4 linked regions of the Homo sapiens genome follow. The protein of the gene in region 3 purifies or fractionates together with the protein of the main gene of each other region. This does not show direct contact. Each region holds a gene or a part of one and is shown on either strand. Other genes may lie near its edges. The genes, in order: PYGB, SEC63, BIN3 and FBXO8.

Region 1 (7,634 bases), on a different chromosome or scaffold from region 3:
CCAGGGTCTGTGCACAGCTGGCGGGCAAGGGCAAGCCTTGGGCCCCACAGCGCGGTCATGCAGGTGATGCCGGCACTCACGATTGTACAGGGTGACGACGTGCAGGCAGTTGAGCAGCTGCCGCTTGTACTCGTGGATCCTCTTCACATGCACATCGAACATGGAGGAGGGGTTGATCTTCACCTTGTACTCCTTCTCCAGGAAGGCCGAGAACTTGAGCTTGTTCTCCTGGGAGGGTGAAAGGGAAAGATGGCTGGAGACTTCACCAGGACTCCATCCACTGACCCTGCGGCTTCCTGCTTCAAGTGCCCTGTGAAGAGTGCCGCAGGGAGGGGGCAGGGGTATACAGGCTGGAGCTGAGGGGCAGAGATTGCACCAGGGGTCTTCTCATGGGAAAAGGGGAGAGGGGGATGCTGAAGGTGGGTCCACACCAAGAGTAGGGGATAAGTGAGGAGCCGGCCCAGGAGCACGCCTGGAGCCAAGCAGAAGACACTGCAGAGCCAGGCGTGCAGGCGGCGGAGCAGCGCGGGAGCGGGACGGCTGAAAGGACTACAAGGAGAACTAGTTCTGGCCTCTATGAGGAGGCCAAGCTCGACAGGCTGTGTAGATGGGCCTCCAGCCCGCTGAGGTTTGAAGGCTGCCGTGACTGGCCCTGGTCTAGCCGAGAGGCTGCTGCCGGTGCAGACAGCTCGTGCACCTGCACAGCTCTCCAGGGGCAAAGAGGGTACCACGCTGGAATCGGCTTCTAGAGGCTTCCATACAGAACTGACCTGTGGCAGAGGGTCGAGGCACGGGCAGGGCTGGCCTGGGGTCTGCACTCACCTATCTGCCATGTGACCTGTCCTCCTCGGGGCCCTCATCTGAAAGGCTGAGTGGGGTGGAGAGACCTCAGGCAACCCTAACAGCCTCACCCTCAGTCCTGTTCTGAGTCCCCACTAAAGCCCCAGTGGGTACCCCAGGACCTGTGCTGGGCCTGTAGGAGGGCTAGGGCCAGGGCCTACCTGCCTGGTTGTGGGAGGGCTGGGGTCGGGGCTGGGGCCAGGGCCATGCCTACCTGTTTGACCTTGGCCACGTCCCTGATGAACACCTCGTCACTGACCAGCGGCAGCAGCTTCTTCAGCTGGCTCAGGTCAGTCAGGAACTCCTCCCCAATTTTCTGGAGAACGTAAAGGTTCCGCTCACTGTGGGCCTCAGCCTCCTGAGGCTGGGCCCCCTAGCCACCTGCCCTCCTCCCATTGTTGCCCACGCCCCTGCTTTCCCCTGGGATCTGCTTGTCCGGCCCCTCCGGGCATCCCACCTCTCAGGCCACAGGGTTACCCCAGCAGCCCCTCCTTCCTCTTCTGAGAGGGCTCTGCGAGATGGCCCAGTCCCACCAGTTCAAACGTCCACAGGAAACACACGACCCTCCCTCAGCCACCGATCCCAGGGTTCTCTGACATTGAACATCCCATCACCACCCAAAACCCAAAGCCATCCTCCCGCTGCCCTCCACCAGCACCTTCCCTGCCTGAAGCAGGCGGTCCCCTCAAAGCCAGCACCTCACCCAGGTGCTGCCTGCAAACACTCGGCCACCTCTCCTCACTGTACCCAGGCCCATCTCAGACTGCACAGGAGCCACGCTGCTTTCCAGGTCCCAGGGGCCCGTCCCCCAGCACAGGGCATTGAACCAGTTTGCCCCAGAGCACTGCTCACTCTCTCTTCATTCCCTCTTCAGACCTCAGCTTTCCTGGGAAGGCTTCCCTGACCATAGCCCCAGGTGGGCGGTCCCACCCTCCCAGCGGCTGGTCCTTGCCTGTAGCGCAGGGCCTGACACCTCAGCACTCATTTCCTCAGGGAGCTTGCATAGGAGCCAACATACAAACAGGAAATAGGTGCCCAGCCTAGCTGGCAGTCAGCTGCCTCTTGACTCTTTTGCAGTGGCCCCGTGGCTGCACTCAGCCACACCCCAGCCCTCCCTAAAGCTCGGCTTCTGAACTCGCACACAGGACCCGCCAGGCCCAATGGGTGACTGCCCAGCTCAGCGCCCATGTTCAGGGGCTCAGCCCTCATGTCCAGAAGCCTGCAGGTCAACACGTGAGGGACAGACTCCTGCCTACTCAGCAACCGCTCAGCAGGGGCTGATGACATGGCCCGCGGTTCTCAGCCCAGGCATCTCCACAGGCACGGGTGGGGCCCGGGACTCACCTCCACGATGGTATCGGCCAGCCCCGGGTTGCACAGCAGCAGCCACCGGCGGGGGGTGATGCCATTGGTCTTATTCTGGAACTTCTCTGGCTCCAGTTCATAAAAATCCTTAAAGCTGCAAACACAGAGAACAGGGAACTGTCACAAATGCTGTGCCCTGCACCAGGTGAGCAACAGACCTTAAAGTCCTTTTAAGGAGGTCCCAGGAGCCCTCAAGCTCAGTGGTTCTGTTCTGTTTTCTAAGGAGAACAGAGTGACCGCGGCAGCTGCAGGCTCTGGGAGCCATACGAAGGCAGCACCTGCACCCCGGGGCATCTGTGGCTGGCTGTGCGGTTTGCCCAACCACAACCTTGCAGGCATTAGAGCCTGGCCATTCTCCAGAGCGGTCCGTGCGGAAACAGGTGTCCAAGTCATGACAGCCGAGACCGCAGGACTTCAGGGCTTGAGAAGCTGCGCTCGGTTTCCTCATAGCTACTGGGGAGGGGCCCGACACGAAGCTTGCTGCGGGCGCCACGCACAGAGCCTGCAGCCCAGCCCCGGGCACAGCCTCCGCTCCCGCCGGCTGCTGCCTGCTCAGTACTCACAGTAGGTGCTCAGCACATGCTACGTGAAAGAGTGGGAGTAATTCCTAGATCACGCCCCACCTAAGAGGGGCAAGAACAAGATCTGACCTAAGAATCCCACCTTCAAGCCCTGTCCAAGCCCTGCCAGCGGCAGGTGGACCAGTGGTGCAGAGCCTCCGACTGGACCCCCAGGAAGGCAGGGGCGCAGGAGAGCAACAGGAGACAAAGCCGTCTCCCCGTTGCCCGCAGAGCCAGAGCCCTCCAGAGGCCCCCGTGTGCTGGTCGGTGAACGCACAACAAGGCGTGACCCTGACAGGGTGTTCTGGGCAGCTCTGTCATTCCTATGGAGGCAGGGGCCTAGTGGCACAGGTTGTATGCTATATAGCTGGGTCCATGTGTTTGGTGGATGGTCCTAGACGCAGGCCTGGGTGTCAGACAGAGCTGGCCCCGCTCGGGCAAGCGCCCCACTCACACCGACTGTTTCACGATCTCCGAGTGGATCCTCGCCACACCATTGACAGCATGGGACCCAATCACACACAGGTGGGCCATGTTGATCCGCTTGCAGTCCCCCTCCTCGATCACAGACATCCTGCGCAGGCGGTCCACATCGCCGGGAAACAGCGCGGCCACGTGCTGGTGCCAAAACACAGAGGCAGGTGGGTGGGCACAGGAGGCCCCACGGAGACCCAGCACTCCCCATGACCAGGGGACACTCCATGACCACCCATGGGAAGCTCTGCTGCCTCCAGGGAAGTTCTGGGGCTGTGACAGCCAGACCTCCCTCAAGTGCTCCCAGACCCAGCAGGCACCTCCAAGGCATCTCACAAGAGCCCAGGCCCAGCTTGAGGAGGAGGCTCTCGCTCACCCAACTCCCCAGCCCAGGAAAGGGCCCAGCCCGGCCCAGGGACCCACAGGGCTGCTGTCTGAGGAAGATGGGTCTGAGGGAGAGGACGTGCAATTTAATTTACAAAGAGGAACCTGAGGCTGTGGGCCAGGCGTGGGGATCAGCCAATAGCTCTGCCAAGGGACAGCCCCCAGCCCCAAGCATCCTCTGCTGAACAGAGGGTGCCTCGTTCAAGGAGCAAAGCACCTCCTCTCCCAGGCCAGGTGGGGGGCCGTTGGCATGGGTGTAGCCGCCACCCTACACGGCCAGCTGGGCCCACACTCACGTCCAGGTGCCGCTGGTTGATGGCATAGATTATCTCCAGGTGCCGCGGCAGCAGCTTCTCAAACATGGACACGGGCCAGCGCTCCAAGGCCTCAGGCAGCACAGTGTGGTTGGTGTATGCACAGGTCTTCTTCGTGATTTCCCAGGCCTAGGCCATTAGAGAATGTTCCCATGTGTTTGTTTAGAAACAAGCAGCTCTCTGGCCAGTTGCCTAGGCAGGGTGAGCGTCCAGGATCCCAGGCAGATGCTGGGTACCCCAGGAAGGGCCACCGTCCCCTCTGCTCTCCAAGGTGGATCTGGAGCCCTCTGAAAGCCTGACACGCAGCCCAGAGCCCTCACTCTGCTGACGCAACCCACTGAAGTGTGACATTATGGTCCAGTGCGTGACACACACACAAATAAGACACAATCGCCTGCTACCTGGAGTCACCTTCACACTCTGCCGTCACTGGTAAACGGACAGACCATTGAGCAGTTTTCTATTTATTTCCACTAAAGTGGCCAGACATGGTGGGGAGGACACTGGTTACTACACAGACCTGCCCTATGCTGGCCAGAACTGGGGTACCCACAACAGGTACAGCCTCACCTGGAGTGCACACACCCCAAGACCAGAGAGGGGCTTGGGTTTCTACAAAACGGAGTTAAAAAAAATCGTTTTATGGTTTCTTTTGGTTTTATTTTTCTGGGTGTGTGCTGCCACACCTGGCTTTTTTTTTAGAGGTGGGGTCTTGCTGTATTGCCCAGGCTGGTCTCTAACTTCCGGCCTCAAGCAACCCTCCTGCCTTGGCTTCCCGAAGCACTAGGATTACGGGTGTGAGTCACCACATTGGCCTGTTTTATGGTTCCACATGTTGATTTGGTAACGGTTAGATTAAGAAAATCCTACCACACAAACATATTTAAGTCCAAAATACACTGAATCGCGAGGGCAGGTGCATGAATAGAGCACAGACCTCTAAACACTTAACGCTTTGGGGAGCTGTCACCAAATTTCAAGATGAGAATGCACCAACGGGAAACCCTGAGAAGTGTCACAGCCCTATCCTTATCATCTCCCCCGCGCCCTGACCCCATACTCTGGCCCCCGGAACCTCCGTCTCCTGGAACCAGACCCCTCCCACAGCTCGCGTCTCTCCTGGGCATGATGACCACACAGCTCTCCCAAGGCCAGGGAAGAGGCCCCCCAGCTCAGCTCCTTGTAGCCCTGGTCTGCACGGGCTCCAGGCTCTGGGGAGGTGCCGCCCTTTTCCTCCATGCTCACCTTGTCCCAGTCCACCTTCTCCACGTCCACCAGGATCCGCATGAGCTCAGGGATGGAGAGGGCGGGGTGGGTGTCGTTCAGCTGGATGGCCACCTGAAGGTCGCACAAGGGGTGCCATTCAGTCATTTCATCCCACGTGGGCACCCACGGTTGTTGGCATACGAAGCTCCCCAAGTGAAGGAGCCAGCCCAGCCCACCCCACCCCCGAGAAGCCTGGAGAACAGGGAGGGGTTCTGTGGAGGGAGCAGGGAGGACAGTCGGGCTCGCACTGTGGCAGGTGTGCGCTGTGCCCGATGTGCCTGCTGGTGAGTGCCCTACAGCTGTGTGCTCTGCTGCGGGTATGTGCTGCAGCCGGAGGGGAGGAGCCGTGGCCACCGGGGCTGGGGGCTCTCTCACTGGAACTATAGGGCTTTGTTTGGAATAACCCCATTTAGCCTGCCCAGCACATCTGACTTTGCACAGGAGCCTTTCACCATGTCCCTTGCTGACCTGACTCCTAACAAGGCCGGTGGCCCTTGTTCTGGAAGGGAGGGCCCAGGTGGGATCCTGGCCCAGAATGACGAGACCCCAAGACAAGGGGCATGTACCATTCCACTCTAGCCCCTTTTGGGACATGAGAAAGCAACCTCAAGAGCCTGAAGGCGCCCAGCCCCTGGCACTGAGATCCCTCCCAGGGCCACCATGCACCTTGTCTGGGAACGTCTCGAAACAGGTTCTCACAGGGTCCCGGCAGCCGAACTTGGACGACTTGAAGCGGCGGATGATGTCCTGGAGCGTGGCGGCCACCACGAAGTACTCCTGCTTCAGCCGCAGCTCCTTCCCCTCAAAGAACTGCACACAGCAGAGCAAGCTGGAGGGTGCAGGCTGGGCCATTCTCCTCCCCCAGGAAGCCCAGGTCAGCGACCTGGCTCAAAGGTGCAGGCAGAAGGCCGAGAGGAGCCCAGCCCAGCTGCCTGACACTGGGGCCTGCCTGTGTGCCCTCAGGTCACTGAGGAAGGTAACCCCGCCTGTGGGACACACCCCGGGACACAGTGTCCATCCGTCAGAAGTACAGTGCCAGCGCTGCTCAGGAGCTGCACTGTCCAAGCACAGGCCTTCTGGAACATTCTGTACCTGGGGCTTGGGGTCTGCCAACAGTCTCATGGGGACAGGGGAGTGCACTCTTTGATGAGCCTTCCGGCACCCAGGCCTTTGCTCCTGTGTGCACAGGTTACTTTCATAAAACAAAAAGCTCACTTTTAAACATGCTCTGCCCACTAGGGCATCTTCTAAGGACTTGTCAGGCAACAACAACAAAAAGAAAGCCACTGGGCACTAAATGCAGGTGGCAGTGGGGAACATGGCTGCGACACCATCACCTAGTATGGGAAGGGCATGTGCCAAGGACCTTTCAAATGTCCCCAGGCATCAATGCCAAGTAGGCGCTACGGTCCCCTGGACAGACAGATCACCTGCTTGGGGAAGTGGCACTGCAGGCTAGAACAGCACACAGACTGGAGGGCTGACGGGCTCCAGCTGGCCCCAAGGAGCGGCTGTGTGTTTATGAGGGGAGTGGATAAGAGGGGAAGGTGGCAGAGAGTGTCCTCGGAGAGAGGACCACAGAGCTGCCAAGAGGCACACGAAGAGCCGCTTGGGCTTTATGGAGGACAGTGCACCCTCTCCTCCCCAAGGGCATCGTGTGTGCACCTAAGGCGAGAGGGCCACCAGGTGGCTGCTTGCCAAGGCCAACAGCAGGCCCCACTGGGGAGCCCGGCCAGCCAGCCCACCTCTCTATGCCAGAAAGCGATACGGCCTGAGCAAGAGTGCCCAGGCCAGCTACTCACGTTATCATTTGGATACAGGACCCTGGAGATGTTCTCAGCCAAGTTCCGGTCCAGGACCGCCTCGATGTAGTCTCCCACGTTGACTAAGAAGAAATGGAGCGGGGTCAACACACACATGCCTCCTGGCACCAGCACTGCAACCGCTCAGGGGCCTACTTGCAAAGGCCAAGGAAACTCGCTCGAGCACAGGACTCCCCCAGCCGCTGCATTACTTCCCCTCACCCCCATCCCTGGAGGTAAACGTGATCCCTCCTGCAGCTCCCCTATGTACCGCACACAACTCCATCCCCCTCACTCCTCCCCAGGGGCACATGATCTGCACAAGGTGACCCTGGGTGCCCAGGGCCCAGGTGTCTTGGTCGCTCTGCCTGTAGGCCCTTCCCGGGCAGGCCCCACACACAGGTAAGCTGCACCAGCCTCGCTCTTCACTGGGACGCAGGGACACCCTAGAGGAGGGCCGCGCGGCCTCCAGGACAGTGAGCCACAGGGCGCGGTAAAGGCTGTGGGCGAGGGTGTCTGGGACCAGCCACCCACATGGACACAAGGGTGCCAAGAACCACGGAACGTACAGTCCTGCAGCTTGAAGTCGTTGGGAGCCTTGGCGGACCACAGCCGCATGGTGTTGACGG
Region 2 (7,634 bases), on a different chromosome or scaffold from region 3:
TAAACAAATGTAGGCATAATTTTACAAGTTGACATGACACTTTCATTCATATTACTTAATATGATTGGATTCTTGCAACAATCCTTTGAAGAAAGCAAAACAAACAACTTAATTATTAGACTCACTATGTGACTAAAAGGAACTCCAGGATCAGAAAGGACACAAGTCACAAAAGTAACAAATGGTGAATATCAAATTGTATGGTATCTCCGTATTATAGTATTATACAGCTGTTTTAAAAAATGAGGCTTTTCTATATGTTGCATCCCCATTATATTAAGCAAAAAAACAGAATAATGCACACATACAGTAAAATCTCATTAAAGGTTTTTTTTAAAATGAATGTGTGTACATAAATTCATAGAAAAAGATTTTAAAGAAAAAACACCCAACTTCCCAATGATTCCTAAATAAATGAAGTTGAGGGTGGTAGTGCGGGAAGACTTTCATTTGAAACTTTAAATATATCTGTGTCAGCCAGGCATGGTGGTTCACACCTGTAAGCCTAGTACTTTGAGAGGCCGAGGCAGGATAATCGTTTGAGCCCAGGAGTTTAAGACCAGCCTGGGCAACGTGGCAAGACCCCATCTCTACAAAAAAATTTAAAAATTAGCAGGGCATGGTGGTACACACTTGTGGTCTTAGCTACTTGGGAGGCTGAGGTGGGAGGATTTGCTTGAACCCAGGAGGTAGAGGCTGCAGAGAGCCATGTTTGCACCACCTTACTATACAGCAAGACCTTGTCTCAAAAATAAATAAATAACAAAAATAAAATTAAAATGGACAGTTTCCCTGTATTTAAAACATATATATACATATATGCATGTCATACATATATACATATATGCATGTCATACATATACACGTGTCATACACATGTATGTCATACACACACGTGTCATACATATATGCACGTGTCATGCATATATACACATGTCATACATTTATACACATCTGTCATGCATATGTACACATATACATATGTCATACATATATACATACACACATATGTATACATATGTATATATGTATCTGTGTTAACTCAGTTGTAACTTTTGTGATTTTTGTTTTTTTCTTTGAGACAGAGTCTCGCTCTGTCACCCAGGCTGGAGTGTAGTGGCACAATCTCGGCTCATTGCAACCTCTGCCTCCTGGGTTCAAACCAGCATGTCTGACTAATTTTGTATTTTTAGTAAAGACAGGGTTTCACCATGTTGGTCTCAAACTCCTGCCCTAAATTGATCTGCCCACCTCAGCCTCCCAATGTGCTGGGATTACAGGAGTGAGCCACCATGCCCGGTCAGTTGTGGGTAATTTTTGAATTGGGAGGATATACACATCATGCTCAAGTAATGTCACATTTAGAAGACCATTAAAAGTATAGTTATATAATTTTTTTTTCAGTTGGGGTCTCACTCTGTGGCCCAGGCTGGAGTGCAGAGGTGGGGTCATGGCTCACCGCAACCTCAAACACCTAGGCTCAAGCGATCCTCCCACCTCACCTTCAGTGGCAAGACTCTTAAATTCAAGGATCAATGGGTTATATTCTAACATACATTTAAAATGTTATAGGGAGACTCCAAAACATGTCAATCTCCTTTCCAAAAAAAACATTAACTTAAAAAGCTAAAACTTACCACAACAACTGGAAGGATAACCATAAATGCCAATCCATATACAAGTAAAACCTAAAATTGAAGAGAAAAAGAATTATGGCCTTCGTCAGGTAAATTAAAACAACATCCATGAATTTATTTTGAGGCTTACAATGGGGGAGCCACTATTAAAAGGATTCCTCATGTATTATCTTGTTTAATCCTTATTCTCAAACTCCAAGAGGAAGGTACCATTATTACCCTCCTTTTGTAGGTAGAAAACCTGCAGTACACATGGGTTACATAACTTGTCCTAGGACACAGCTAGCAAATTGCACAGCCAGGATTTGAACCCAAGTAGTTCAGCTCTAGAGCCTATGTTCATATCCACTATAATAAATTACCTTTTAATTTTTTATTTACTGACACAATACAGATTAACACCAGCAAAACAGTTTTGTAAATTACATTTCTCTTCCAGTCAGGCAGGTATTTATATATCCACAACCTCTCAGTAGTTAGTGCTCTGGGAACAAATGAGATAAGAAGCCCCTGGCCAAAGGTTCCTTTAGCTAAATATCAAGGAGTCACTTCATAATGCTGACTAGCAATTTTTACCTACTGATTTTTCTCCTATTACTTGATCCTAAATCTGGTAGTAACTTATTCCTTCTCGACTATTCCTACTAACCAGAAGCATGACAAACAAGCTTATGCAGCAACTGTATACCCCCTCAAGGTAACCAATTTTAATCTGCCAGATAATAACTTAATAGCCATTTTCAAAACAAATTACAGACTATGTGGATTTTGTTTTTATTGCCTCAAAGACAGCCTTTAGACAATTATTTTCAAGAAAGTTGAAGTAGGAATGTATCCCTGAGTAAGATAATTCTTGACATTTTAGGGTTGCAGTGATTGAAGTCTGATATCCTACCTCCTCCTGAAATACCATATGGAATATATACAATTCAATTTATTGTAAATTAAAATTAGGCATAGTGCTCATGCTTGTAATCCCAACATGGTGGGAGGCTGAGGCAGGCAGATAACTTGAGGTCAGGAGTTTGAGAGTTCGAGACCAGCCTGGCCAGCATGGCAAAACCCCATCTCTACTAAAAATGCAAAAATTAGCCAGGCATGGTGGTGGGTACCTGTAATCCCAGCTACTCAGCGGGGGCTGAGGCAGGAGAATCGCTTGAACCCAGGAGGCAGAGGTTGCAGTGAGCCGAGATCACGCCACTGCTCTCCTGCCTGGGCAATAGAGCAAGACTCTGTCTCAAATGAATGAATGAATGAATGGCACACCAGTATTTTCTTTGTAATAGTTCTTCTTGTATTACCAAGACAGATTGTACATAACAAAAATTTTGTCTAATACATCATAATGTATCTTATTTAAATGCACTCACCAGAATTGAGTTTTTCTGGTCAACTATCCAAGCTGGCAGGGCAATTCCAAAGCTTGTGGCTGAAATAGAAAAAATATCAGTTTCTGAAGAATCTCTACTTTCAGTTTTAATAAATACATTAAATATATTTGGGATCTATAATATATCCCAGAACTCTCCCCCACAACACAAAAACAAACTTTGAGAAAGATTATCTTATTAGTAGGCCCCCATTACACAAAAGTTCAGGGATATAGTTTATATCTGAAACTTCAAATTTTTCAAGGAAAAAGAAACCCTGTAAGTACAAATTCCTTCTCTCAAGAAAATATAAATTATTTTATATGTCCTGAGTTTACATAAACACTATGAACACATGAGAAAATGTGAAGTCTGTAAAGAAAAATAAGATTTTTTCCTCCAAATTTTTATCAACTAGTAATTGGAAATGATAGTGATTATTCTTCTCTATGGATCAACTTAAATTATATCTTTCAAACTAGTCTTTAGAAAGAAAAATAAAGCAAAAATTAATGAGAGCTCAATTTATCTATGTTAAACTCCATGTGAGTATAAGTTTAGTAAGAAAATAATATTATTCCTTTAATCTGGTTAACATTTTTATAATATATACCATATCGCCAATATTTTAAAATCATCATTTACCACACCTTGAGGCCCATCTGGATTTCCAAATTCTTCCCAATTTTTCCGGGACTCTTCATCCGTTAAACTAGCATCAAAAGAACAAAGTTGCAAAATTAGAAAGCCACATCTGAAAAACAAGTACTCATATAGACAAACTCCATTAGCCAACCAACTCATTTCTTAGAAGATACTGATTCCATGAATCAAGAAAAGTTTCTCTGAAATCAGGAGAAAGGGAAAGGGAGGAGCAAGAAATGCGCATTAACAGAAAATGCTAACTATTGCGTCTTGATACTAATTCCTGGTTGGCCCATGGTTCTCAAGCTTAACCAGTTCTCATGTTCAACCAGATGGTTCTCAGTTCAACCAGATCAAACTTTAAAGGCAACTACATTTTCTAAGAAGGCAGGGAGAATTGTAGGCGATTTTTTTCCCCTTATACTCTCATATATTTTCCAAAATTTCTTCAATGAGCATGTTTATACATTAGTAATGATAAATACACATTTTTTAAAAACATAAATTTAATTCATAATGGTAGCTTCCCCACAAAACAATAGCACCACATTCTGAAAGAAACAGATGACCACCACATGTAAAACTCCATTGCTGTGGGTAAGGTAATTTGCACTGTGCTAAGATCACAATTTTCTCCTAAGCCAATTGCCAGAAGAACCAGGAAAATTTCTCCTGAACAGCAGCTTCCTAACCCAGGGAATGTGAAAGTTAAAGAGTAATTTTTAGATACCTAAAATGTAACCCCTGACTTTGACAATGGCTCAAGGTACAGAGTCAAGAATAACTTTATTCCAGTTCCCAGTGAAGATGTTAAAAAGCATTAAAATGAATTCCCAATTCCTTACAAAAATATACAATGTAGTTAAGGAATATAAGGCAGAAACCACCCCACCAACACACACGCTCAAAAATGACCAATAACATAATAAGGAAGACATTCTTGGAGACCAACTGGTAAAAGATCTTCCATATGGTCAAATCTAATTTTAACCGTACTTCTACTTCTCAAAACTTAAGAGGCAATGTAGTTTCTATTTAACAAAACTCCAATCTGAGATAGGCAATGCAGAAATACCTTTATAAAATAGCAAAAAGGACATTCATTAGTTTTCGATGACTTGAAAATATTTTTAAATTTATCAATTTAGTCATTTATGCAAACAGGTGCCTTGATGTCTTTAATCCTTATTTAATTGTAACTCCACTTACACTATTTGATGAAAGGCCACAGAAAAATACAGGAGCCAATAAAAAGCATTACTAGACAGGTTGCAAGATAATAAGGAATAGTGCTAAGATTTTCTTTTCAAAATTGAGGGATGTTTCTCAAAAATTTTGTCCTAGATCCCCTGTACAACTGTCCACCCAACTCAGAGTTTTAGCTTGTTTCTTTCACTATTGTCTTCTAATTGGATCCTTCTGCCCAAAATAACCATCTCTGTCCCCTTCTGCCTTTGTGATTATGCAAAACAAACTGCTCTGTCCTCTATACAATACTCCCAGATTTTGCCAAATAAAGCATAGCTCACATCAGAGACACTCTGATTTTGCAACCTACACAGACCTACGAGTTACGATTACATTAACTCACTCATTAAACTGACTTCTACAACTGCTGTGTGATGGGAACCATGTTGAACATTCAATCTAATAAAATAAGTCAGCAACTTAAAGTCAGTTTAAGAAGCAAATGAATTTTTGTTACTTAGCATTTCAGTATAATACCACTTCTAAGAGTTAAAGTACTTAAAAGCTGCGTAATTTTAGTATAATTCACATTTAACAAGCTTAAACAAGATCAATGATGCTAACAGAATTTTTGAAAATTCAGTGAGTGTAGTTTCCTAAACATGATTATATCCCTTAATTTTTTGGGGGTAACAGAGGACGATTATAGATTCTCTTATGAATCTAAGGAAATCTATGACCCCTTTGCCCTGGGAAAAATGCACATTACAAAGACACATAAATTTTGTATACAATTTCAGGGACTCCAGATCATAAATCTTGATCTAGAGAATGCTTTCACTAAACTGTAAACAAGTGACCATGAGTTGGCTATGCACAGTTATTATAAGTTACATGCTCATCTGTAAAAACCATATGCTTTTATAAAAATTAACATATCTTTAAGGTGACAACAACGCTGCCCACTTGCTATACAATAGCTTTAAAGACAGGTTTTACATCTGAGAGCAAAATCTCAATTCTATCTAGATAATGAACCAGAGAATTCAATGGTATAACTCCTAAAGGAAAGAGTGAAAATCTGATTAAAAAAAAAATGAAATGACCCAGCTGGTTTATTATAATAGGCAACTAAGGAGAGAAAAATGATCTCAAATAACCTAAGCAAGTTCTAAAAAACTTTGCACATCAAAGCCTATATAACTGCATTCCAAGGCTGCTAGAGTTATTCATGAGATAGGAACTTCAACTCAAGCACTTAGAACTTATAGTTGGTAAAATATATACCTTTATCTAATATAGTTATATTTATGCAAGTTACATAATCTCAAAGTTCTAGGTCCCACGATCACTTCACTTTTTCATTGGTCTTACAGAACGTCAACTATTTAAGACATTTTATACATAAAATATTCTACAGTTTAACCACATAACTGAGTTAAAACTAAACACCTTATATTATTCTTGTGCATTTTTCAGAATAGTGACCACACATCATAGTCAGATTTCCAGAAATCTGAGAACAAAATTATAAACTTGAAAATGTTAAAATACCTAAAGACTGGGGGGATAGGGTGGGGGGATTTCACCAAAGCACTAAAATAAAAACTACTAATTAAATAGTCTTGGCTACCTGACTTCCTCTGGAAATGTCTTTTTAAATTACCTGAAGACAGCAATCAAGGCATACCAATACTTGTGAAAAGAGAGTAAATGCTTGAAGGAGACACTAACTGAAAGACAGTAACCTCAAGGACAACTGCTACGCAGAAAATGTAGTACACACTTCAAAAGTCCTAATGGCACTGCTTTATTACAGAATCATATAGTAATTCACATAGATAAACAGCAAGCCACAAAACAAGGGGAGAGAAGAGACATAGTCAATATCCTCTACTAAGTACAAAAATAAGTAAGGTGATATCTCCCAAACTTCTGTCATTTACATGCCACTTTCACAATTTGCTATTATAACTTAGTATGCTATTGCAAGCAAACTTCTTATTGCACTTTGCAGATAATCGTGTTTTTCTGCCATTTGTGTTAACCCTGCATCAAGCAATTCTATCAGTGCCATTTTTCCAACAGCATGTGCTCACTTCATGTCCCTCTCTCACATTTTGGTAAGTCTCACAATATATCTAATGTTTTCACTATTATTTTATCTGTTATAGTGATATGTGATCTTTGACATTTCTATTATCATTGCGGGGCTGGCACACAAACTGCACCTGCAGAAGAAAAAGAACTTAATACATATGTGTTTCAAATGCTCCACTCACTGGCCATTCCCCCATCTCTCTCCCACTCCTCATGCCTCCCTATTCCCTGAGACACACAAGATTCAAATTGGGCAAATTACTAACCCTAAAATGGCCTCTGTTGGGAGCAAGCCCCCACAAAATCTGGCCATAAACTGGCCCCAAGACTGGCCATAAACGAAATCTCTGCAGCACTGTAACATGTTCATAATGGCCCTAACACACGCGCTGGAAGGTTGTGGGTTTACCGGAATGAGGGCAAGAACACCTGGCCCACCCAGAGCAGAAAACTGCTTAAAGGCATTCTTAAGCCACAAACAACAGCATGAGCGATTTGTACCTTAAGGACATGCTCCTGCTGCAGTTAACTAGCCCAACCTATTCCTTTAATTCGGCCCATCCCTTCATTTCCCATAAGGGATACTTTTAGTTAATTTAGTATCTATAGAAACAATGCTAATGACTGGTTTGCTGTTAATAGATATGTGGGTAAATCTCTGTTTGGGGTGCTCAGCTCTGAAGGCTGTGAGACC
Region 3 (8,338 bases):
TAATCCCCAGTCTCTGGGCCGTATTCACATGTCGGATGGGGATGCTTTCAATTTCCCTTTCCTGGTGGGTGGAAGCTCCCGGCTGCGTGGGCACAGACCAAGGCATGGCAGGCATTCCCCACCAGTGCTGGCTGCGCCCAGCCCACCTCCCAGCCGGCCTCGCTCACCTTCCCTCTCCTTCTCCTCTTCGCCCCTCCCATCCCCAGGGGAGTGAGTTTGATATTGAGCCTTAGGACAGACAAGAATTGGGCAGTGATCATGGGTAATGCTTTGATCACTGGCCTGGGCCCAGCCCGGCCCCCTTCTTTGAGGATAAATGTAAAACAGACTTCAGGAGCTTACAGTCTAGTGGAAAGCCACAGCGTGTTCTCAGGTCAGCGGCCAGGTGTGGCAGCTGCCAGCGTGGTGCAGGACCATGGAGCGGGGCATGCTCGGTGGGCTGTCTGACCTGCCCCCACCTGGCCTCGGAGGCTGTTTCCTCACATGTGGAAAGAGAAAGCCAAACTGACTTCTCATAATGGGACAGTCAGCACCTAGGAGTGGGAGAGGAGGTTTTGGTGGGCTGAGGTGGGCAGGGAGAGAGGAGGGGTGAAGTGCGCTGGAACAGCAGAGTGGAGCCTGGGTCCTGGCTTCACGCCTGGGGACAGGCTCCCCCAGTGTGGTTGGGTAGAGTCAGCAGGGCCTCTGTGGGGTCCCAGGGACATATCTGGGAGGGGCTGGCACAGGCGCCCAGCCTGTGCACGTCTCCACCTCCCCTGCCAGCAGCCTGAGCCCTGACCTGAGATCCCACACAGCACCGTGGCACATCCACTGTCCACCCCGGGGCTTTGGCAAAGTCTGTTCTGTTGCTAAGAAGTAGAAAACGGGGAGATGGGGCCTCAAAGGGTCAGTGAGTGACCAGGGCAGATGTGACAGAGTCCTGGTCCACTACTCTTCAGCCACCTTGGCACAAGCTGCGCCCTGCCCTGACTGATGTGAGTTCCCACTGAATGTAGAAAGGTGTGACACTTGTCCCTACCCCTAGGGAATCCCAATCCCAGGACCCAACCTCCCCCCACCGTGGTTGTAATTTATCAGCAATCACCTCCAGTGGCCTGAGCAGGCAGAGCCTCTTGGTGGCTAAGGGGTGCTGTCATGGGAAACGGAGGTTTTCATGGTGAAGACATGCTCTTCCCACTGGGGCAGGCGGCCTGCAGAGGCAGGTGGTCTTGGTTCCAGGGGGCTGGCAGGAGCCCATGCAGCCAGGTGGCCACCTGGAGACACCACCACGCCATCCCCCGAGGAGCTCTGTAACCCGGCCTCCCTCACCCCCGCTCGGCACTCCGCTGTAGTCAGCGCTCCTGGTGGCTCTGACTCTGGCACAGGAAATAATAAGCCCCAGCCGACAGCTGTGGGAAGGGGGCTATGAGAGTGCCTCAGGGGATGTTGGGGGGTCAGGCTGCTGGAGCAACGAGCATAGGGCTCCTCCCATCCTGCACCGTGGAAGCCACCTTGCGCACACACGGCTTCACGCTGTGATGCCCTCCTTCCTGAGGATGTGAGCTCAGGGTGGTGGGATTGGGGCCAGGGCCAGAGAGCTCTCCACCTGCTGCCTCCTGCCTGCCTCATCCTTGCCCTGTCCCAGCGCCTGCACCTACCCGGCAGCTCCCAGGCACCCACAAGGCCCAGGCACTGGGACCATCCAAGCAGCAGGTGGCTTCTAACACAAGGATCAGGGCGAGGACCAGGGTAGCTGCCGGTGGTCCCTTGGCCATTTGGGGCTGAGGGAGAGGTGGCCTGGTAGCCTCTCAGGCCCAGCTGCACCTGCTGCCTGAACACGTGCCTCTCAGCTGCCCAGGAAGGGGGCAGGGCTCCCCAGCAGCTGCAGCTCCACCACGCAGCCGCCCTGGGCAAAGCATCAAGTCTAGCTCCTCCCAGCAGTCTCACCCCAGCCCACGCCATGGGCGACTATGCATCCTGGTGGTGTCTGCTTCCCACCCTCAGTTCCGTAGTGCTGAGGGGCCCGCGTTCTCTGTGCACAGTCCTGGGAGGCCCATGGCTTCTGCCCGGCAAGTCGGTCAGATGCTGGTTTGATTACTATGTCTAAGGGCACGGGTGAGCATTCAGGGTGCTTTGGTGGCTTCACCCACTTAGCACCTTGTTAAGACAGGGAGCCCCTTATGGACACTGTTGAGGTAGAGGATTCCTGTCTTGGGGATAAGCCCTTTGTTTCATCAAAATCTACTCCCTGGGTCTGACTTAGTTTGGGGGCATTTAATGCTTTGGTAAAGTTAATATCCTCTTACTCCCTGGCAAAACTGTTCATTACTCTTACCTCAAATGTACACTTGATTTGCTGAGGCTTTTTAAAAACAGGCCGGCCACGGTGGCTTACGCCTGTAATCCCAGCACTTTGGGAGGCTGAGGCGGGTGGATTACTCAAGGTCAGGAGTTCAAGACCAGCCTGGCCAACATGGTGAAACCCCGTCTCCACTAAAAATACGAAAATTAGCTGGGCGTAGTGGCACACGTCTGTAATCCTAGCTCTTCGGGAGGCTGAGGCATGAGAATTGCTGGAACCCAGGAGGTGGAGGCTGCAGTGAGCAGAGATCATACCACTGTACTCCAGCCTGGGTGAGAGAGCAAGACTCTGTCTCAAAACCAAATTCCTGGTCATGTCCTTTGAGAGGCACATCTGGGAGTCCTGCTCTGTGTGGTAGCTGAGCTCCTGGAACCTGACAGTGAGTCTGCCAGCATCCTCTCAACTCTGAGTGCCTATGATCCCAGTCTCAGTAACTGCTTCCTGCCCTCGTCTTTCCTCCTCTCTGGGTTCCTCATAAAAATGTCCAGGAGGAACCAACTCTTCTGGTCCTGGGTCACCTCCGAATGGCCACAGAGTCATGAGCTCCCTGGGCTGCGCAGCCTGATCCTGGACACTGCAGGGCTCTGGCTTGCCTGGTAGACGCCCCCTGCCATTGCACCGAGGGCCAGCCCTCCAGCAGCAGCAGCGAGAGCCTCAGGAGAGCACTGCTCCTGGTCACTAGAGGACACATGATCCACAAAGACGAGGCCGGTGTGGACCTGCAGCGTTGCATCGTCCACTGCTGCTCTCTCTGAGGGCCACTCCTCTGAGTCTCCCACGCGGTCCCTTCTAGTCACAGTGGAGGTCCTCAGGGCATTTTCCTGAAGCAGCTGGTTGGAACTTTGGCGGTTCCAATGGCAGAGCCAGAGGATTTCTGCTGCTTTCATGTTGCCAAGGAGCCCTTGAAGGAGAAGGTGCCCTGGGGCAGGGGTGAGTTTAGATTTCAGTTCTGCCACCTGCCAGTGGCACTGTGAGGGCTGGAAAGGGTGCCAGACAGAGAATGTGGACACCTGTGTTCTCTTCTAGACCTTCTCTGCCTCATCGTGACTTTGGATGAGTCATAGGTCATCTCTCTCTGTCCTCAGTTTCCCTCCTTTTTAAAAGTGAGGTGTTGGCCAGATGACTTCAAGGCACCTTCCCCACCATCCCCTAGTCCGTTGTGTGATAAAGCTCACAGGAGGTGGGGGTCAGGGCACCCTTCATTCCTGGGCCACCCTGTGCCACCCAGCTCCCTGGACCTGGCCCACAACCCCACCTCCTCTCATCTGCCCTCACCCCATGACATTGTCCACGTTCGCACAAGCTCCAGGGGACAGGGCCTCATCTGTCTTGTTCACAGTGAACTCCCCAAGACCTAGAGCAGGGTCTGGCGCTTGGTAGGTGCTCAGGGCACATTTTTGGACAAGTGAGTGCTGGCCAGGACGCCCCTCCAAGAGCGGACCCATCTCCAGCCAGGCCACCCCTCCAAGAGCAGACCCATCTCCAGCCAGGCCACCCCTTCAAGAACGGGCCCATCTCCAGCCAGCTTGTCCCACAGGTTCGGCAGTGTCTTCCCGAGCCTCAACATGGCTGTGAAGAGGCGGGAACAGGCCTTGCAGGACTACAGGAGGCTGCAGGCCAAGGTGGAGAAGTATGAGGAAAAGGAGAAGACGGGGCCAGTGCTGGCCAAGCTCCACCAGGTACCAGGGGAGACAGGTGGGCAGGGGCTAGACAGGTGGGCCATCGTGGTCACCTGTGGTAAGTCCCTCCCCTCACCTGGGGGCACCAAGACACCAGACGTCCCCACCCCACCCATCCCGTATCCGGCACCCAGCAGTGAGAGAGTTTTGACACCCAGGTCTTGTTCCCTAGGCACGAGAGGAGCTGCGGCCTGTGCGGGAGGACTTTGAAGCCAAGAACAGGCAGCTGCTGGAGGAGATGCCGCGCTTCTACGGCAGCCGCCTCGACTACTTCCAGCCCAGCTTTGAGTCCCTCATCCGAGCTCAGGTGAGGCCGCCAGGTGCTCTTCCCCTGGGCTTGGTATACACAGCTCATGCCACTCCCTGTCACCCACACTGGAAGGGTGGCTTAGCCATTCTCCGTAAAGACAGGGCACCCACCCCAGGCAAAGCCCTGAAGGAATTCATTCCATTACCAGAGTCCCAGGCTCAGCGACTTGGGGGACCTGTCTGCTGTTAGACTCCTCACATTGCTCTCTGGTAAATCCCATACCAGGAATGGCCGAGGTTCCCTTTTGGTCCAGCAGTTCCGCCATGGATCTCTCTACATTTCACTATAAGTAGCTCCTCTGCCCCGCACCCTCAAGTGGGCGGTTTCTTGGCCCAGGGTGGTGCCGAGAAGAAAGGGATCTGGAGAATGGAGGCCTTTTCTGAGGACTCAGCTCCCCTCCCCTGCCTACCGTGAGCCAGTCTTTTTAGCAGGAAACGGCGGGAGTCCTGCCTTGGAACCACTAAGGAAGGGGGCTCCAGAGCCCTGGGGAGAGCCACAATCAGGGCTGCTCCTAGGGCCCTGGGGTGGAAAGGCAGGCCTGGAGGCATGGGGGCGCCACTGGGGGTCAGACACGGGCCAGGCCCCAGCGTCTCCTTCCACTCGGGGACGGGAGGACACGGAGTGGCATGCTCCTCACCCTCCTCCATCTTCAAGCCTTTAGGAAGGATTGTTCCCCCAACTGGCAAAATAGAAAAGGGTGGGCACCCATGCCAGAAGCGGGTCCCTTCCACACAGGACCCTGCTGATGGCTTGCGCTCAGCAACAGCCTTAGTACCCCAACACCCGTGGCACCCTGCCAGGTCCCTGTGGCTCTGCCCCTCCTGGCCCGGGTGGTCTGAGCGTGGCTGGGCGTCTGGCGCCCTCCAGTGGCCATTTCCTGCAGGCCCGTAGTCGCAGCCGTGAAGCCTGGCCAGTGCACACCCACCCTGCCGGGCCAAAGTCAGGGTGGCCACCTGCCCCAGTCAGGACACCTGAGCAGGGTTCATGCCGGGGCGGGACCTTGTCAGTGACCCACGTACTTGGTCCTGTGCCATCTTTAGGGGGCAGTGAGACCTAGAGCCTTCTGCAGGAGGAGGTAGGGACTTCTCCTGACACTTGCTCCTGCAGCGAGGGCTCCCTCCAGCCGCCCCATTGGGTTCACGGGAGACCTGGGCCTGCCTCTTCCTCACTGTCACCTGGGTGCTGCCCTGCACCCTCCCTCCTGTTGCTCACAGGAGGAAGCCACAGGGTGCCAGGCTCCCGCGTGTCCAGGTTGGAGCAGATGGGAGGCCAGGGATGCCCTTTAACCAGGCAGCATTGCTGGGGGCTGTTGACTGCCTCTTGGGCCCCAGCCTCCCCCTCGCCCGCCCGGCTGCCATTAGTCATGGAGAAGTGAGTATTCCCAGTGACTCAGCGCACAGTGGCTTGGGCAGGGAGTGGGGGCAGGGTGGGCCGCCGCCAGCCCAGAGGTGACAGCAGTGTGTTGAGACCAGCTCACTTTAGCACCCCCTCGGCCGGCGGAAATCTCGCCTCAGGAGTATCAGCCGTGGGTCCCCGCCCCACCTGGCATTTCCCACAAGGTCCCCTTAGTGTCTAGAGCTCCTCCTCATGTCTAGAGTGAAACGTGGAAGCTTTCAGGAAACTGCATGCTTTCATTGGGTCATGAGGTAGAAACTGAGGCAGAAGTGGCCCCTATTGTCTGTGGAAAAGCCCCTGGTCCTCAGCCATCTGGGAGAATTGACGGGCTTCCCCATTCCTCCACCTGCCCCACCCTCAACCCTGTGTCCCCTCCCACACCATTTCTGGTGCCTCCCTAGAGGGACCCTGGCAGTGAACCTGGCCTCTGAGCTGTCCCCCTGGCCACGCAGCTTGGGCCATGAGCAAGGGTGGGATGCAAGTTGGGAGGGAACAGAAGGCTAGACGGGCATCCCCTTTCTTGCCTGTGCCTCTAAAGCTGGCTTAGGGCTTTGGGAGCCATCAGCCTACCATGCTGTCTTTCTGCCATGGACAAAAGCCTTGGGTTCTCCCCTAGCTTACAAAAAGCAGTAAAACTCCAGTCATGGTGCCCATCATTCCACAGTCGCCCTAGGAGGCCCATGCCTTCCTGCACCTGCTGCTGGGGGAACCAGGAGCCCGAAGCAGGGGCGCCTCCACCTCCAGCCACTGAGGCCCTGTTGCTCCCCGGCTCCTTTTGGTTCAGTCTCAGCTAGAGCCCTTCCGTGCCCTGCATATCCCCAAAGGCACGCTGCTGCACAGCTCCAGATGGGTAAGGGCAGGGGGTAGCAGAGAAGTGTGAGCCTCTGGCCCCCTGAAGCACACGGTTCCCTGGAGCCAGCACGTGCCAACCCCTGTCGCCTCCCCCAGGTTGTGTACTACTCGGAAATGCACAAGATCTTTGGAGACCTGTCCCATCAGCTTGACCAGCCAGGCCACTCCGATGAGCAGCGGGAGCGGGAGAACGAGGCCAAACTCAGTGAGCTCCGGGCCCTCTCCATTGTGGCCGATGACTGAATCCCCGTCACTCTTGGAGGACTCCTGTGACGTGGTCAGCCTCATTCATCCTTGCCCTTCTCAGGGCTAGCTGCTCCTCTCACAGGCTGGGGACAGAGGTGGCCCTGGTTCACTTGCCGGCCCTTTGCAATGAATGACTCTTCCTGAGCCTGGCACCAGGAGCCCTAGGCAGGCCGCCGTCTCCCCACTCACAGCCCCAGCAGGTAAGCAGTGTAGACAAACCCTTGGGGCTTTTTTATTTGGAGAACCGTCCAGCATGCATCCTGGCCCACGGCCTGAGCAAGCTGCAGCCCTTCTGAGGCCATGGGCTTCGTTGGCTAAGTTGGGGGTCTTAGCCTTGCATGCGTTGTGGGCATCAAATCTACCTCCAAAAGACCCATCCTGGGGAGCCCTCTGGCCCCTCGTTGCCTTTTCACTTCAAAACCTCTTTTTTCTGGGAGAGGCCCTGAACCCTGTGCGGGAGAGCTGGTCCTCCAGCCCTGGCAGGCCCTCAGCCAGCTTCCCAGCAAGACAAAGGGCACCCTTGTGGCTTTGGGACCTAAGTGGTTGGGGTTCCCGAGGTCACTGAGGACTGGTACCTCGGGAACGCAAGCTGTCAGTGGAACTGTCCCACAAGAATTCACAGGTCTCAAAGCAGGAACAGTGGGTTTGTGTCTCACCTGAGTATCTGGAATTTTATTTTTTCAAGTAAAATTTTCAATGAAACGTCCACATAGTATTGTGCTGTAACTTAGGCGAGCAGAGGAAACCCCTTCCTGGGCCTGCTGCCCTCCACGGAGCAGCAGCACCCTCCAGCAGGCAGCCCAGCATGCCAGGGGTGTGTGCGCACCTCCCCGGCCCTGGCCCACCTTCTGGAGCGAACTGCACCGTGGTCCAGCAGAGGCGCTGGGTGGGAGGGCACGCGGGCAAGCCTAGGAGAGTAGGAAGAGCTGTGGAGGACACACTCTCAGTTTGTTTTTGACTTTGGTTTATTTAAAAAACAAGCCAAAAAAAAAAAAAAAAAACCCCAACTTTATATACAAAGTCAAACTGAAACCACGGATTATGGAAAGAGGCAAGAATTATGGGTAACAGGGGAGAAGGCTGGGCCAGAGCCAATACCACATTCTGAACACAGGAGCCACGGGAAAGAGGTGCTGGTTTCTTCTGGCAAGACCGGGGTGACTGGAACGCAGTGTTCTACTGGCAAACCCAGCCCAACACTGAGCTCTTTCTAGCATGGACTCCATTCCCGTGATGGCCAAGGGAGACCCTTCCCCCAGAAGCCTGTGTCCGGAACCTAGCAGAGCCTGTGCCATCCGGAGGAGGGGGCTGCTTAGCCCCAGCCAGGCTCCATGTCTTGCTCTTCAGTTCCGTTCACTGACATCAGACCTTGTCCCACACTCGAAAAGCCTTTTTCTCCCCTGTCTTATTCTAAACTGGAAGAGGACAGGAGAAAGTCAGCACAAGACTAAAAGGGCCCCAGGAGAAATACCAAGGTTGAGGGCAAAATGACATTCTAGGGGTGCAAAAGATGTT
Region 4 (7,634 bases), on a different chromosome or scaffold from region 3:
TTATACTGCTGCATTATTTTTACCCACCAAATGAAATCACTGACTCAAAACTGTAAGTATAAAAAATTGTTTAGAATATTATCAATATTTTTTCAGTCTTATTAATCTAGTCCCAATAAAACCCAAAACTAGAGTTTTATTACTAAGCTTTGTGAAAACCAGAGAACTTCCCAACATCAATGAGTATTCAATACATCCAAAGTTGAAATTAAAACTAAGCCAGCCTTTAATTTCAAATAGAAGCAATTTATTATTAAGGAAAAAATCCAAGTATTATAAAAATAGGCATAATTATGGCAAATATTTCTTTCACAAATGAAAAATTCAGATTTAAACCCCAAATGAAGAATACATTCTGGTTGACTTCAGGTAAGGCTAGAAATTAAACTTTTAAAAAAAGTTCAAACAAACAGAAATTAAGTTAGTAAGGAATACTAAAATGTAGAAAAGAGATTAGAAAGAATGAGCCAGTTTAAAAGTACTTTCATTTCCTCTTCTATTCATGAGTAAAAAATTAATAACATTTATTTTAAAGACTCCTCATTAACAGAATTTCCTCTCACGTAGTACTTTCACTATGTCAAACAAATGAGTAAAAGAATAACAAGATATGATATTGATGATTTTTATCTATTTAGAGGTTGAGAAATGACCTATATAACTTGTACTAGAACTGTGTGACATCAGAAAGCCTAATTTAGGAATGTCATTACTGAAAATATATTTTGACTAAAGTTTGTAATTTATTAAGTCTCTCAATTAGATTTCTAGTTTGAAATTATAGGAAGTCTTAAAAAGATATTTGTTTTTAGTTATAGTCTATATTTTTATAAAGACCTATTTCAAGATAATAAGACAAATAAACTTTGGTAAAGGATGCTAGAAGGTCTGAGATCCAATGATTCCATGTTTGGTAATATTTTTAGGCCAAAAAATCATGTACCTATACTTTTTGTTAAAGTATATGATGCTATTTAAGGAGTAACTTAGGTTCAATAAAACAGATTCTATTCCAGCAAATGTTCTTAGATTTGTGGTTTTAATTCAGACTAGTACAATGTGGAAATTTATGTAATCTAAGTTCAGCAAGTAAATAAAAACAACTATTTGTCCCCTTGCTTTCTAATATTTGCCTACTTCATTGAAATGCTGGTTAGAAAAAAAAAGTAGATAAAATTTTCACCAGTTAAATTTTATTCTAACAAGCACCTTTGAAGAAATATAGAATTGAGTAAAAATGTAAGGCTCTATATGAAGAAAATTAAAAACAGTAACATTTGAGGACTATTCATTGATTTCGAAGTCTGCCTATTATTCAGATGGCAGGTATCCTATGGGAAGCACAAACTACACAGCATGTGAACACTCCAACTTTTAAATTAGAAATTCTCACTCCACAACTTTGCGGTATTTTCAGAATAAAGTGAGAGTTTCTGACTTATAATCAACTGACAGAGCCTGATTGGTAACCTCTCTTCTAACTGTAAAGTTATTATTCTATTTTCTATTGTCCTCCTTTTCACAAGATCAAATTTGACTGTGATGCTAACTGTATATTTTTCCAGGTTTTAATAAAGAGCATCTCAAAGTACAAGCCCAAGTTTAAAGAAAATATTTTGTAATATACATTATAAAAAGAACATTGAAGCATGATTATGTTTAGAGATACCTGAATTCAACTTTGGTGGGTTTAACTTACCCTTGCCAGAGAAGTTCATCATTCGCAAGGTCCTGCCAAACACATGAAGCCAAGCAAAGGTCAGTTGCATTCAGGTAGGACAAGATGGTAAAGCTTAGCTCAGGAGGCAACATTTCCAAATTAATGAATCCTTCCTGTTCTTTCGATTTCCTTGCCTTCAAAAGATGATATATGTCAATGCCTCCTTGGACTTGTTTACGATGATTGGTGTTAGAAATGTTGCTCGCAGCCATTCTCCTGCTCTGCTCTCTGGTGAGGTAGCCTTGCTCACTGTAGCCTTCTTGTTGCAGCTGCTGGTTTCTGACCACTCTCCACAACCCTTGACCCATCTGCAAGCCTGGGAAAAAGCCAGAATGTAATAAGGGTGACATTTAAAAAGTAACCCATTTTTCCCAGTGGTATAACAAATCTGACATGAAGCATTCATTTATCAGAATTAAAACTTCTCATTAAAACCTACTAAAACCAGAAGTATATTACTAAGAATAGCTGGAAAATTATAAGTGCAAATTTTGATAGACAAAGTTTCAGAATTACTTGGTTCGATCATCACCTTTATCCCAGTTTGCTAACTACTTCTAAAGTCCATATGTGACATAATCATTTTTCACGTGGTAAGATTTAAAAGTTACTGATGTCCTTAATACTCTTACAAATTATAATTATGTGGACTTATGGGCCAGTATTAAATACAGCTCTGATCAGAGCACGGACTTTAGTTAAAAGGCCTCCAGACCCTGCTTTTTATCACAATTCAGTCTAAGCTAAGCTAGCTCCTTTTAACCAAACTCCCAGATGCGTAACAGCTGGGAAACAGGCTTTTAGTTTAATTCTTGCCAGTCTACACTTACATTGTAGACTGTAATAAAATGTAACATAGGCCCTGAAGTCTAATTCAGAAACCTTGTAAATTAGACACCTAGAACTCCATGATAAATAGCTCGGTAACAGTAGACTATTTAGTTTTGTTGTTGCCTTAAATTAAAAATTGTAATTTAGAGAAATTTTCTAATTCTTCTCCACAAATCCCTATGGATTCTTCAGAAGTACCTGGGAAAAGACACCAGAAGAAAGGTGTGCTCTAGTCTCCCCACTACCATCTGACCTCCCACCAGAGCATTCTACATTTGTCTGTCACATATATTGACTTCCTCATGTACAAATGTATTAGAAAATTCCTAGAGCTAGATTTGGCATTGCCTTTAAATAGCTTTTCTGGAGCAAATAAAGTCATTCAGAACAACTAAATCGGAGTTCCTAATGAATACAAATAATTACTTTCATGATCTCTTTTTCAAACAAAATACTTTTATCAACTCGAGTTGACTACTAATACCTGTGTGTTTCAAAAACTTGGAAAAAATACTAACTTTCCCATAAAATCATTAAAATAGTCAAATAATTTTTATAGCATGACCCGAACTTAAAATATAATGTGGCTTCAATTAACTGTTTACAATAAGTACTAACAAAAACAAAAGCAAAAACCCCAAAAGACAAAAAACAAACCAACAACAGTGACTAGATATCTTTTAATCAGAAATAATTTGAAAATTGAGTGGAACTTCAAAGAATGTCAAAGATTGTTGTTGATTAAAACAGAAAAAATAGTGGGCAGACTAGAGCATGCCTTCTTCTGGTGTCTTTTCCCAGGTACTTCTGAAGAATCCATAGGGATTTTATTTTAGTATTTAAAAAGGTATAATCCACGCATTTATTTACTAAACCATTGGCTATTATTTGGGTAATGGCCACTAAATTCGGTCATTTGTTGATTAAAACAGAAAAAATAGTCCAGGATAATTTTTAACTCTTCCCCCACCTTATATTGCACTGCTTGGAATCCCAGCAGCTTAAGCTATACAGGTATGGTGGGGAGGTACAAAGAGAAGAAACATATTAATAATTTTAAAATGTAGGCACATTTGTTTTTGAAAAGAAGGCACAAAAGATAACCCTTCTCTCCCTACTACACACGACACCATGGTATTTTTTCCTAAATCAGTGGTTAAGCTATACAAATAAAATTCTTAAAAAAAAAAAAACAGAATATCGGGAAAATAAAAAGACAAGCCACGGACCAGGAGAAAATCTTTGCAAAACACATATATGATAAAAAGACTGTGCATCCAAAATATGTGAAGAACTCTTAAACCTCAGCAGTAAGAAAATAATCCACTTTAAAAATGAGCAAAAGATCTGAATAGACGCCTCACCAAAGAAAATACACAAATGGCAAATAAGCACATGAAAAGATGCTCAACATCATATGTCGTGAGGGAACTGAAAATAACATAACTATGAGATACTACTACACACCCATTAAAAGAGTATATCCGAAACAGTGACAATACCAAATGCTGGCAAGAATGTAGGAATGCAAAATGATACAACCACTTTGGAAGACAGGTAGTTTCTTTAAAAATTAAACATACTTTGTATGATTCAGCATTAGCTGAATCATTTACCTAAATAAAAGCTTTTTATTTAGGTATTTACCTAATTAAAAGCTTTTTATTTAGGTATTTACCTAATTAAAAGCTTTTTATTTAGGTATTTACCTAATTAAAAGCTTTTTATTTAGGTATTTACCTAATTAAAAGCTTATGTCCACACAAAAACCTACACGTGAATGTTTAAAGCAGTTTTGGTAATTAATTTTCAAATCCTGTAAGCAACTACGATGTACTTCATTATGCGAATGTATAAATAAGCTGTGGTACAGTATATCTATACAATGGGAAATTATTTAGCACTAAAAAGAAATGAGCTATCAAGCAATGAAAAGACATGGAGGAACTTTAAGTGCCTATTATTAATGTTAAGTAAAAGAAGCAAATCTAAAAAAGTTCTTTACTGTATGATTCTAATTATAAGACATTCTGGAAAAGGCAAAACTATGGAGACAGTAGAAATGATCAACGTACAAAAAATAGAGAATGTCAACAAAAAATTATAAGTACAAGTTTTATATTTGTTTAAATGTACCATGTCACATTACAACATTAAGTACAACTTAATTTTGACACAAATTGAACATTTTAAGTCTACTAATCATAAAGAAAAGTATTTTATTTTCACCATTGCTATTCCTCTATTTAACTTAGCAAGAAAATATCTAGAAATCACATTAATTGCTGAGCTCACCTAGCACAGCTGTTATTTTAAATAATTAAATTTATTCTCTTTTGTTTTTGTACCACTAAAGGTAAATTATCAAACATGGTAACTGCAGTATCTGAAGTCTCAATATTTAAAACATTTATAACAATTTCAGTCTATTTTCCTACAGAATCTTTCTAGTGGCATATGGTTAAGCAGCTGTTGCTACTCTTAGGCCTGTTGCTAGGGAACAAAGAATCAGGGTGATTTCCCTAGGCTCCGGACTTTAATGGGGATCACTTAAATTGAACACACTGGATAATATGATTCAGAAAGCATCCGGCAGGTAGAAAGAGGTAAAGCCAGCAGCTGGTTCTTTAAAAAATAATAATAATAATAATGGGGAGGTTGGAGGGTTGAGGCTCATGTATACATAGTTCAGACAAAGAAAACTGCAAAATTATACCTTATTTTCTGTATTCCTACTGCTAAACAATACTGAAAATTGTCCCCTTGGGACTTTCGTTTCCCTTTAAAGCAGTTCTTGATCCTGGGTAAAAACACAGTAATGATAAAGCACTCTGAGAAAGAGTAACATCATGAGTTTAGCATTTGGAGAAAGAAAAGGGAGTCTGTAGCGTTCTGCCCCCATTCCCTATCTTCCTTAGCATAATAGGGATGTGAAACATGGGTGTAACTGTCAGAAAAGCTTTAAAACTCTCAAAATGACGTGACATCCATTGTATAAGTTGTAAAGCAAGTCATGGAGGGAGTATAGTGGTATGGGTTTTGAAGTCAGACAGACCTGGGTTTAAATCCTGACTTTATTAGTTCTTACTTACAGGACCCTGGGAAAGTTACTTGACTACTCTGAGCTTTAGTTTCTTCATGTACAATGCAAAAAATAATAATGATAAAAATGTCTATAGCTCAAAAAGCTATTGTGTTAAGTAAGATAATGTACATAAAGTTAATTTCATGGCTAACAGTTAACTAACAGTCAATACGTTAGATATTACTTTGACAAGCATATTTTTATCAAGTGAAAATAAGCACTTTCATAAAGCTTATTTAATGATACTTAAACTGTTCTGATGTCCTGCCTGTTGAATAAGCTTATTTGTTCATGTTGCTACTTGCACAGCTTTGTAGGGCCTCTACACACAATTCACCTCCTTTAGTTATTTCATATTGTGACCATGTTTTTATGTTGTTTCTTCTTGTAAATCCAATTCTTTTATATCAATGACCCAGCAACAACAACAAAAAACTCTAGAAAACAAAAAAAGGCTGTGTTGTCTTTCACAGAAAATTTTAAAACTCAGCATGCCTGAGGATGGTGCCAATAGCAGTTCCATGAAATAGGTCTTTGTGTTATTGTTAATAATCTGTCAAGATGTGGCTAGGTATGGTGACTCATGTCTGTAATCCCAGCACTTTTCGAGAAGCTGAGGCAGGAGGACTGCTTGAGACCAAGAGTTCAAGACCAGACTGGGCAACATAGACCCCGTTTCAACAAAATACAAAAAAAGTTAGCTAGGTGCGATGGTGCATACCTGTAGTCCTATCCACTCAGGAGTCTGAGGCAGGAAGATCACTTGAGCTCAGGAGTTTGAGGTTATAGTGAGCTATGATCACACCACTGCACTCCAGCCTGAGTGACAGAGTGAGACCTTGCCTCTAAAAAAAATTAAAATTAAAAATTAAAAGAAAATAAACTGTCAACACTAGCTCTAAAAGAGATGTAGAATATGATGCAGTTTCATGCGGGGTTCGTCCATGATTTCAAACTCTTGAAAATAGTGTTTAGACTGAACCAATTAAAACTTAATTTCAAAGTATAAAGTTTTCAGATTTGTGTTAAAAGTTTTAATAATATCTTGGTATAAAGATTTTAAAACTGAAACATAATATTATAAAAGATATATTACTGTCCTGTCACTTGCAGCAATTGTTAGGTAAAATAAAATTCAGCTGCAATGTGGAATCACTGAATATGCAAAAAGTTTCAAATTCAAAAAAAATTCAACACAAAATAAGTTTTTGTATTTGAAATCACTAGTTTTGGTGTAAATATGGATTTTGTGATGAAACTACAGCTTTATTTGTTCACTCAAAATAGGTGGAGAAAATAGATATTTATTTCTTTGAAAAAATATTTACTCTTCTAAGAGCATAGTCTATGTTAGTCTATCTCATACAGAAATAAAAGAAACACGGTTGCTTCTTGTTATTCATGGCAATTATGTTCTTTAAAGTTTCTGCAAACACTGAATTAGCAATACTGAACCATTGTTCCTAGGGAATTACAGGGTTAGGTTACTGTAAGCCTCTATTCACAATATTTTCATTAACTGATCAATACATAACCTTACTGTATGTGTGTTTCTGCTGAAAGACATTTAATACATATTGCTAATTCATTAACTGTGAACTCATGGCCAACCGCACTATAACTCAGGCTTGAATGAGGCTTATCTAACATGTATTTTATCCATAAGGCACAACACTTAGGAAAACTAGATAACGCTTCTGCACTAGGCTTGGGGGCCATTTTTTGTTTTGTTTTGTTTTGTTTTGTTTTTGAGATGGAGTCTCGCTGTGTCGCCCAAGCTGGAGTGCAGTGGCGCGATCTCGGCTCACTGCAAGTTCCGCCTCCCTCCCAGTTTCTCGCCATTCTCCTGACTCAGCCTCCAGAGTGCTGGGACTACAGGCGCCTGCTACCACGCCCGGCTAATTTTTTGTATTTTTTAGTAGAGACGGGGTTTCACCGTGTTAGCCAGGATGGTCTCCATCTCCTGACCTCGTGATCCGCCCGCCTTGGCCTCCCAAA

What was found.
Region 1: the proteins of BIN3 (region 3) and PYGB purify together in Homo sapiens (affinity purification with mass spectrometry; one large-scale study listed by BioGRID and IntAct). This does not show direct contact.
Region 2: the proteins of BIN3 (region 3) and SEC63 purify together in Homo sapiens (affinity purification with mass spectrometry; one large-scale study listed by BioGRID and IntAct). This does not show direct contact.
Region 4: the proteins of BIN3 (region 3) and FBXO8 purify together in Homo sapiens (affinity purification with mass spectrometry; one large-scale study listed by BioGRID and IntAct). This does not show direct contact.

Annotation. Positions count from the first base shown.
Region 1 is NC_000020.11:25,276,698-25,284,331, reverse strand, and holds part of PYGB (glycogen phosphorylase, brain form), read right to left. Parts: coding exon 7,575-7,634; intron 7,089-7,574; coding exon 7,006-7,088; intron 6,014-7,005; coding exon 5,870-6,013; intron 5,276-5,869; coding exon 5,183-5,275; intron 4,067-5,182; coding exon 3,920-4,066; intron 3,384-3,919; coding exon 3,220-3,383; intron 2,300-3,219; coding exon 2,185-2,299; intron 1,157-2,184; coding exon 1,055-1,156; intron 229-1,054; coding exon 81-228; intron 1-80. UniProt on the Homo sapiens protein: Glycogen phosphorylase that regulates glycogen mobilization. Phosphorylase is an important allosteric enzyme in carbohydrate metabolism. Enzymes from different sources differ in their regulatory mechanisms and in their natural substrates.
Region 2 is NC_000006.12:107,909,709-107,917,342, forward strand, and holds part of SEC63 (translocation protein SEC63 homolog), read right to left. Parts: intron 3,720-7,634; coding exon 3,658-3,719; intron 3,067-3,657; coding exon 3,008-3,066; intron 1,689-3,007; coding exon 1,638-1,688; intron 1-1,637. UniProt on the Homo sapiens protein: Mediates cotranslational and post-translational transport of certain precursor polypeptides across endoplasmic reticulum (ER). Proposed to play an auxiliary role in recognition of precursors with short and apolar signal peptides.
Region 3 is NC_000008.11:22,619,904-22,628,241, reverse strand, and holds the end of BIN3 (bridging integrator 3), read left to right. Parts: intron 1-2,829; coding exon of another isoform or gene 2,830-2,941; exon of another isoform or gene 2,942-3,872; intron 3,873-3,878; coding exon 3,879-4,020; intron 4,021-4,192; coding exon 4,193-4,327; intron 4,328-5,544; exon of another isoform or gene 5,545-5,701; intron 5,702-6,673; coding exon 6,674-6,820; 3' UTR 6,821-7,824; downstream 7,825-8,338. UniProt on the Homo sapiens protein: Involved in cytokinesis and septation where it has a role in the localization of F-actin.
Region 4 is NC_000004.12:174,261,065-174,268,698, forward strand, and holds part of FBXO8 (F-box only protein 8), read right to left. Parts: intron 2,037-7,634; 5' UTR 2,029-2,036; coding exon 1,700-2,028; intron 1-1,699. UniProt on the Homo sapiens protein: May promote guanine-nucleotide exchange on an ARF. Promotes the activation of ARF through replacement of GDP with GTP.